Linked DNA regions of Homo sapiens. The protein of the gene in region 1 purifies or fractionates together with the protein of each later gene. This does not show direct contact. Each region holds a gene or a part of one and is shown on either strand. Other genes may lie near its edges.

Region 1 (3,632 bases):
TGTATCAGATTGGGCTGAGATCCCAGTTGTTACTTAGCAGCCAACATCCTTAAGTTACTCTTGTGGCAAGTTTGCTTCCCCATCTCTGCTTAGCTTTCCAGCTTCATCTTCCACCCCGGCAGACCACACCCCAGCCTGCTAAACTCCCTGTCCTTCTCTGAATCTCTGAGCTCTCGGCTCTATTGCTTTGGGATTCATGCTGCTATACGTGCCAGGAAGTCCATTTCTCATACCTTCATCCCCCAATCCAGCTATTTCTTGCCCATCCTTGAACAGTGACATCAGCTATTCTGAGGATGTGCTACTCACGCAGGCTGGACTAGGTACCCTTTCTATCCTTTGGCAGGCTGTACTAACCTCTGTTAGATTTAAAATATTGTTTTTGTAATTGCTTTTACCTGTCCCCACCAAAAGACAGTTGCCCATATAATCATCAAAAACTATTTGTTAAATCAATCCAGAGAAGTAATTAGCACTTACTTCTCAGGGTTGTTCGGTCAATCTATAAACTGTAGGCTGTTATTTGGTCTACTGTTGATCCCAGCTTCTCTATCTTTGAACAGTGCCCATTAACTCAAGAATATACTGCTTCCTTGTTCTCTCCTTCTTGCCCCTCTCCATCATCCCCTAAAAGCCCCCTTCTCTGAGAGGGTAACCTTGAGCTTCTGGGTTTTGTAGATGTCTATACCTGAGATCCGACAATGTGGTAGAAGGCAACTGTGCTGATGAATTACTACAAAACTCCCATCGCGTCGTGGAGGAGTACTTTGTGGCCCCCCCAGGTACGTGCTGCCCAGAATGGTTTAACAGATAGTCTCACAGTAACCTTAGGAATGAAGCAGGAAGCATGAGGACCAAAGATGCTATGTGAAGGCACTTTGAAAAGGATGAAGTGCATACAGATGGTGGCATTAAGGTGGCAGTAGGGTCCAGGGTCATACTCACCTCTAGGGGGCAGTTAGTAACAGGAACAAGCAAAACAGGATTGGGGGCATGCGGGAGGTTTAAAGTAGGTGGAAATCTGGAGCTCAAGATCTCCCTAAAGGGGCAGCTGGCATTCAGTGTTTCTCAAAGCCACAGTTAAGACCCTGCCAGATCCTGTAATCGACTCCAACTTTCTAGTATTCATACCATGAATAAATATTTGTTAGGTCTAGCTTTGGGCTGGGTACCACAAAAAAACCAGTCCTTTCCTAAAAGAATCCTTTTTTTTTTTTTTTTTTTTTGAGACGGAGTTTCGCTCTTGTTGCCCAGGCTGGAGTGCAATGGTGCAATCTCGGCTCACCGCAACCTCCACCTCCCGGGTTCAAGCGATTCTCCTGCTCAGGCTCCCCAGTAGCTGGGATTACAGGCATGCACCAGCACGCCTGGCTAATTTTTTGTATTTTTAGTAGAGACAGGGTTTCACTGTGTTAGCCAGGATGGTCTCGATCTCCCGACCTCAGGTGATCCACCCACCTCGGCCTCCCAAAACGAATCTTATTGTGACAACTTAGTTATCATGTGTGGCCTTAGCCCAGATGTTTCTGTCACATCTTTGCCTATGACATGATTCAAACGCCATTAGGGTCTGCCCTCAGTCTGTGCCCATTCAAAGCAGGAGGAGCATGGCTGCTACCCTATCAGTGTTGCCAGGCAGGAATGTAAACCCATTTCTCCAGAGAACCTGGATACCTGACATTTTGTGTGATATTTCTTAAATTTTTTTTTTTTTTTTTGAGATGGAGTCTCGCTCGGTCACCCAGGCTGGAGTGCAATCTTGACTCACTGCAACCTCTGCCTCCCGGGTTCAAGCAATTCTCTGCCTCAGCCTGCCGAGTAGCTGGGATTACAGGTGCCTGCCACCATGCCTGGCTAATATTTTTGTATTTTTAGTAGAGGCAGGATTTCACCATCTTGGCCAGGCTAGTCTTGAACTGGTGATCTACCCGCCTCAGCCTCCCAAAGTGCTGGGATTACAGGGGTGAGCCACTGCACCCCGCCGATATTTCTTAAATTTTAAGTGCTAGCAACCAATTCAAAATTTAAAAAACAAAATACCATCCAAGCCAAATAAAACACATCTGCAAGCCAGGTGCAGTCTGTGAGCCATCAGTTTACAACAGCTGGTATAGAGATTTGCATCATCTACCTACTGTAAATATTTTAAATAGAAGCTTTAAAATTACTCTGGGCTGACAGTAAAATCCAGAACCTTGGATAGGTTGACTGTTTTTATCTCCTCTGCAGGTAGGTGAATACTTGGAGCTGTTGTACTACCCCTCTGGGCATCTGGGAGTGGGACTAGCCAAAAGCAATCAGGTAGCCTGCTAAGTGCCAACTTCCAGTTCAGGATATCCTGAGGGAGAATCATTCTGAGCAGACTCCACAGAAGACATTGGCCCTGGTCAGCTTAAGGTGCCAGTTAAAGGCAGGCTCTGGTTGATGCAAGGATGGGAAAGAAAGCTAGAAATTTTGTGAGCTAAACTTTTTGTTTGTTTTGAGACGGAGTCTTGCTCTGTTGCCCAAGCTGGAGTGCAGTGGCGCGATCTCGGCTCACTGCAAGCTCCACCTTCCACGTTCATGCCATTCTCCTGCCTTAGCCTCCCAAGTAGCTAGGACTACAGGCGCCCACCACAACGCCTGGCTAATTTTTTGTATTTTTAGTAGAGACGGGGTTTCACCGTGTTAGCCAGGATGGTCTCTCTCTCCTGACCTCGTGATCGTCCGCTTCGGCCTCCCAGAGTGCTGGGATTACAGGTGTGAGCCACCGCACCCGGCCGTGAGCTAAACTCTTAATCATGCCTCCAATCCACTAAACCACCTGTTAACTGTGGAGAGAAAGGAGACTCTCCATCTCAGAGCCTGATAGTTGTGGCTCCAGCAGAAATATCTTTTGATCAGACATGCTATCTCCCACACAGAACCTTACTTCAGACTTTGCTTTTTGGGACCACCTGAGTTCATGGTCAGTGTTTCCTTCTAGTCCTATCTGCATATTAGTGGCTAATCAACCTGTATACTCCTTACTGAAAAAGGTGAATTTGGCTACACTTAGAACTGATTCTTTCAGATACTCCCAGTTAGGAAAACAGGACAGTAGCTACATTACTTCCATATTTTCCATGAGAAAGTAGTGATCAGTTAGCTCAGTAGAGCCAGCTGGGCGGCAGGCTCAGCTATAACATTCTCTGTTGTGGCCGGGCGCGGTGGCTCATGCCTGTAATCCTAGCACTTTGGGAGGCCGAGGAGGGCGGATCACGAGGTCAGGAGATCGAGACCATCCTGGCTAACACGGTGAAACCCCGTCTCTATTAAAAATACAAAAAATTAGCCGGGAGAGGTGGCGGGCGCCTGTAGTCCCAGCTACTCTGGAGGCCGAGGCAGGAGAATGGCGTGAACCCCAGGGGGCGGAGCCTGCAGTGAGCTGAGATTGCGCCACTGCACTCCAGCCTGGGCAACAGCGAGACTCTGTCTCAAAACAAAAACAAACAAACAAACAAAAATTCTCTTTTGTTATTTTCAAACAGGTAATATCTCTTTGCCAAAGCTGGATGAACAAGAGCCATTCCCACACAGCTGAGTAGCTCATTCTGGAAAGGGGGTACTCTGTGAACATGTGGAAGCATAATGACAGTATTTTTTTACTGTGA
Region 2 (3,632 bases), on another chromosome or scaffold:
TTAGGAATAATATTCCTAGAAATACATGTTGTTATGACGATAAGTAGTATTTTTTCACCAGCACTAAAAGTTATAGTTAAAATATTTTGCTGTATCCCAGCTACTTGGGAGGCTGAGGCAGGAGAATCGCTTGAACCTGGGAGGCGGAGGTTGCAATGAGCCAAGATTGTGCCATTGCACTCCAGCCTGGGCATCAAGAGCAAGACTCCGTCTCAAAAAAAAAAAAAAATTTGCTGTAAGCGAAGACTGAAATAGCTTCTATAGGAGAGCTTTAGAATGAAGTCATTTAGAGGAGCAGGCGAATCCTAACCGCATCTCTCTCTTTAGCTGGACTGAACCCAAACATGAATGTCAACAGCATGGACATGACCGGTGGCTTGTCGGTGAAGGACCCATCCCAGTCCCAGTCACGCCTCCCCCAGTGGACGCACCCCAACTCCATGGATAACTTGCCCAGTGCCGCTTCCCCCCTGGAGCAGAACCCTAGCAAGCATGGTACGTCTGAGCTAGGATGCCTGTGGTGGGATCACTGCTGGCTTATTAATCGATCGTCCTGTTGTATAGCATGGCCATTCTATACTTTTCTAAGAATTGAGCACTGAAAGTTGGATTTAAAATAACCCATTCCATTATAGTGCATATAAGATCTCAGCTAGTCACTGATCAAACTTCTTAAAACCCAACCATTAGATCTTAGCTACAAACTTAGAAATAATTTGAAAACCCCAGAGCAGCAAAGAATCTAGGTCATAGCCTGTGTACTTTTTTTATGTATCTATATTCATCAACAAAAACTTGAGTCTGCTGAAATGTTTTCAATAAAATGGTAAAACATAAATAGAAAATCAAATATACAGTATGTATGGGAACTGCAGCTGTAAATACTAGGGTGCATTTCTGTTGGTTATTCCCCTCCATCCAAGCAGTCTGTCTTACTCCAAACTGGTGTCCCCATCGGGAACTCTTTACTGATGGACACACGAGTAAGGTGGAAGCAAAAATGATAACCATAGGAGGTAATCTCACTCTCAAGCATTAAATTTAACTCTGAACTTCCTGGTAGAATAAACAGCAAAGGAAATTCAGTAGGTTACGTAGTTCTCTCTTGATAGGAAGCATTCTAAAAAGAAAAAGGAAACTATGTCTCATGGTTAACTTACGGAAAATCATCACACACTGCTGGCACCTTTCTTAGCAGGAGGGCTCTGCTGCCTGTAGCTGGTTGGTTTGGTTCTGTATGAATTTTTAACATCCACTGTGTTCTTCCGTAGTGAGGGTTTCAGACTAAAAGGAGGGAAGAGATAACAGCAAATTTGATAGCTAATCACAAAGACTCATAAGTTGTCCCCAAAAAGATTTATTAAGGGCAGCTTCCCATGGTATGGATATGTATTTTGTAAAGACTTCTTACTGGACAAACTGAAATTGTTCTTCAAGGGTTTCAATCTTTCAGGGCTGAAATTGTAGCTAACTGAAACAGTCACTGGCCAGGCATGGTGGCTCACACCTGTAGTTCCAGCTACTTGGGAGGCCAAGGTGGGAGGATCGCTTGAGCCCAGGAGGTTGAGCCCTGATCACATCACTACACTCCAGCCTGGGCCACAGAGTGAGAAGTTGTCTCAAAAAAATAAATAAATAAATAAATAAAGTCATTGATTCTTACAGAATCCTAGACAGACCAAGTCTTACAATTCATGTAACTGAATAGGGCAAGGCATTGGACCTAGAACAGAAGGTACATAGGGAGGCTTAGGGTATCTTCTGGTGTCTCTCAACTGGAGAGTATTCACTCGCTTCTTTGTTTCCTATTGTCCCCATAGGTGCTATCCCTGGAGGTCTAAGCATTGGGCCTCCAGGTAAGTCCTCCATTGATGACTCCTATGGCCGGTACGATTTAATCCAGAACAGTGAGTCACCAGCCAGTCCTCCCGTAGCTGTTCCCCATAGCTGGTCACGTGCCAAATCTGACAGTGATAAAATCTCAAATGGCTCTAGCATCAACTGGCCCCCAGGTAAGACCATGCAACACTTCTGTGCAACAGCAGCAGGTCAGAATGTGCTCCAAGCCTGCAGAGAGTGATTAGGCTGAGAGGACCCAGAATCTGAGCTAAGGATCTGGAAGCGTTAAGCCCAGAGCTTTGGCATTTTCCTTGGAAATCCATTTGTCAGATCAATTTTGGGTATGGTTAGCATCAGGCATTTTTCTGTAAACCCTTAGTTCAGCATGAGGAGTGGAAGGGGTGGCAGGGAGGAAGCACACTGCACACTATCCGGTAAAACTATTCCAACCCTGTGTGAAAACTAGCTTAATATGATAGCTGTGATACCTGGTTCTAGTTTGTTCCAAAGGATTGATTGCTTTAATGAAAGAGAGTATAAGGTGTACCTCTAATTTAATTAGCAGATTATAAAAATTTCTACAAACAGGACAAAACATCTTTTAAAATTTCGTGAATCAATGTGCCGGTGTTCTGATCTGTGGCTTCTCATTTTGGTTTCTTAAACAGAATTCCATCCGGGAGTTCCATGGAAAGGACTGCAGAATATTGACCCTGAGAATGACCCTGACGTCACTCCTGGCAGTGTCCCCACTGGGCCTACCATCAACACCACCATCCAGGATGTCAACCGCTACCTCCTCAAGAGTGGAGGTGAGGGTGCTGCTCTTCCTGCCTCTGCATGGACGGTCTCTCTAGACCCATTTGGAGATGTCAGGGGTGACAGGTTGGGCTGTGAGGCAGGGATGATACAAGGCACAGTTGGCGGGCACCTTTTCTAGTCACCTGAAGCAGCATGAAAAGACAGCAGGTAGTGCTTATGGAGAAATGGAAATCAATTTGAGTTTCTGCTGGATTTTTTATTATTATTACTTTTTTTTTTTTTTTGCGATGAAGTCTCACTCTGTCGCCCAGGATGGAGTGCAGTGGCATGATCTCAGCTCTCTGCAATCTCCACCTTCTGGGTTCAAGCGACTCTCCTGCCTCAGCCTCCCAAGTAGCTGGAATTACAGGCATGTGTGCCACCATACCAAGCTAATTTTTGTATTTTTAGTAGAGACAGGGTTTTGCCATGTTGGCCAGGCTGGTCTCGAACTCCTGACCTCAGGTGTCGCCCATGCTGCTGGATTTATTGATAAGTAATGTCTTATCATAGAAGTGCCATCTCTGATAAAGTTTTATCACAGCATGCTATTTTGTGGAAGGAAGAGCTAGATTGCCATAGGTACTATCACTAATAAGGCCACCTAGATAGTTCCCAAAACATTGAATTTCCCACTTGAAATATGACTCATTGGAGCCATGTGTTTTGTGTTTGCTTCTTTTGTTTCTTTTTTTTTTTTTTTTGAGACAGATTCTCGCTCTCTTGCCCAGGCTGGAGTATAGTGGCGTGATCTTGGCTCACTGCAACCTCCGCCTCGCAGGCTCAAGTGATTCTCATGCCTCAGCCTCCCGATTAGCTGGGACTACAGGCGTGCACCACCACACCCAGCTAATTTTTTCTATTTTTAGTAGAGATGGGGTTTCACCATGTTTGCCAGGCTGATCTCGAACTCCTGACCTCAAGTGATCCGCCTGCTTTGGCCTCCCAAAGTGCTGGGATTACAGGCGTGAGCCAGTGTGCCTGGCTGCTTC

The links.
Region 2: the proteins of GATC (region 1) and TNRC6C purify together in Homo sapiens (co-immunoprecipitation; one large-scale study listed by IntAct). This does not show direct contact.

The regions. Positions count from the first base shown.
Region 1 is NC_000012.12:120,456,398-120,460,029, forward strand, and holds part of GATC (glutamyl-tRNA(Gln) amidotransferase subunit C, mitochondrial), read left to right. Parts: intron 1-678; coding exon 679-782; intron 783-3,509; coding exon 3,510-3,562; 3' UTR 3,563-3,632. UniProt on the Homo sapiens protein: Allows the formation of correctly charged Gln-tRNA(Gln) through the transamidation of misacylated Glu-tRNA(Gln) in the mitochondria. The reaction takes place in the presence of glutamine and ATP through an activated gamma-phospho-Glu-tRNA(Gln).
Region 2 is NC_000017.11:78,091,113-78,094,744, forward strand, and holds part of TNRC6C (trinucleotide repeat-containing gene 6C protein), read left to right. Parts: intron 1-327; coding exon 328-495; intron 496-1,820; coding exon 1,821-2,012; intron 2,013-2,507; coding exon 2,508-2,651; intron 2,652-3,632. UniProt on the Homo sapiens protein: Plays a role in RNA-mediated gene silencing by micro-RNAs (miRNAs). Required for miRNA-dependent translational repression of complementary mRNAs by argonaute family proteins.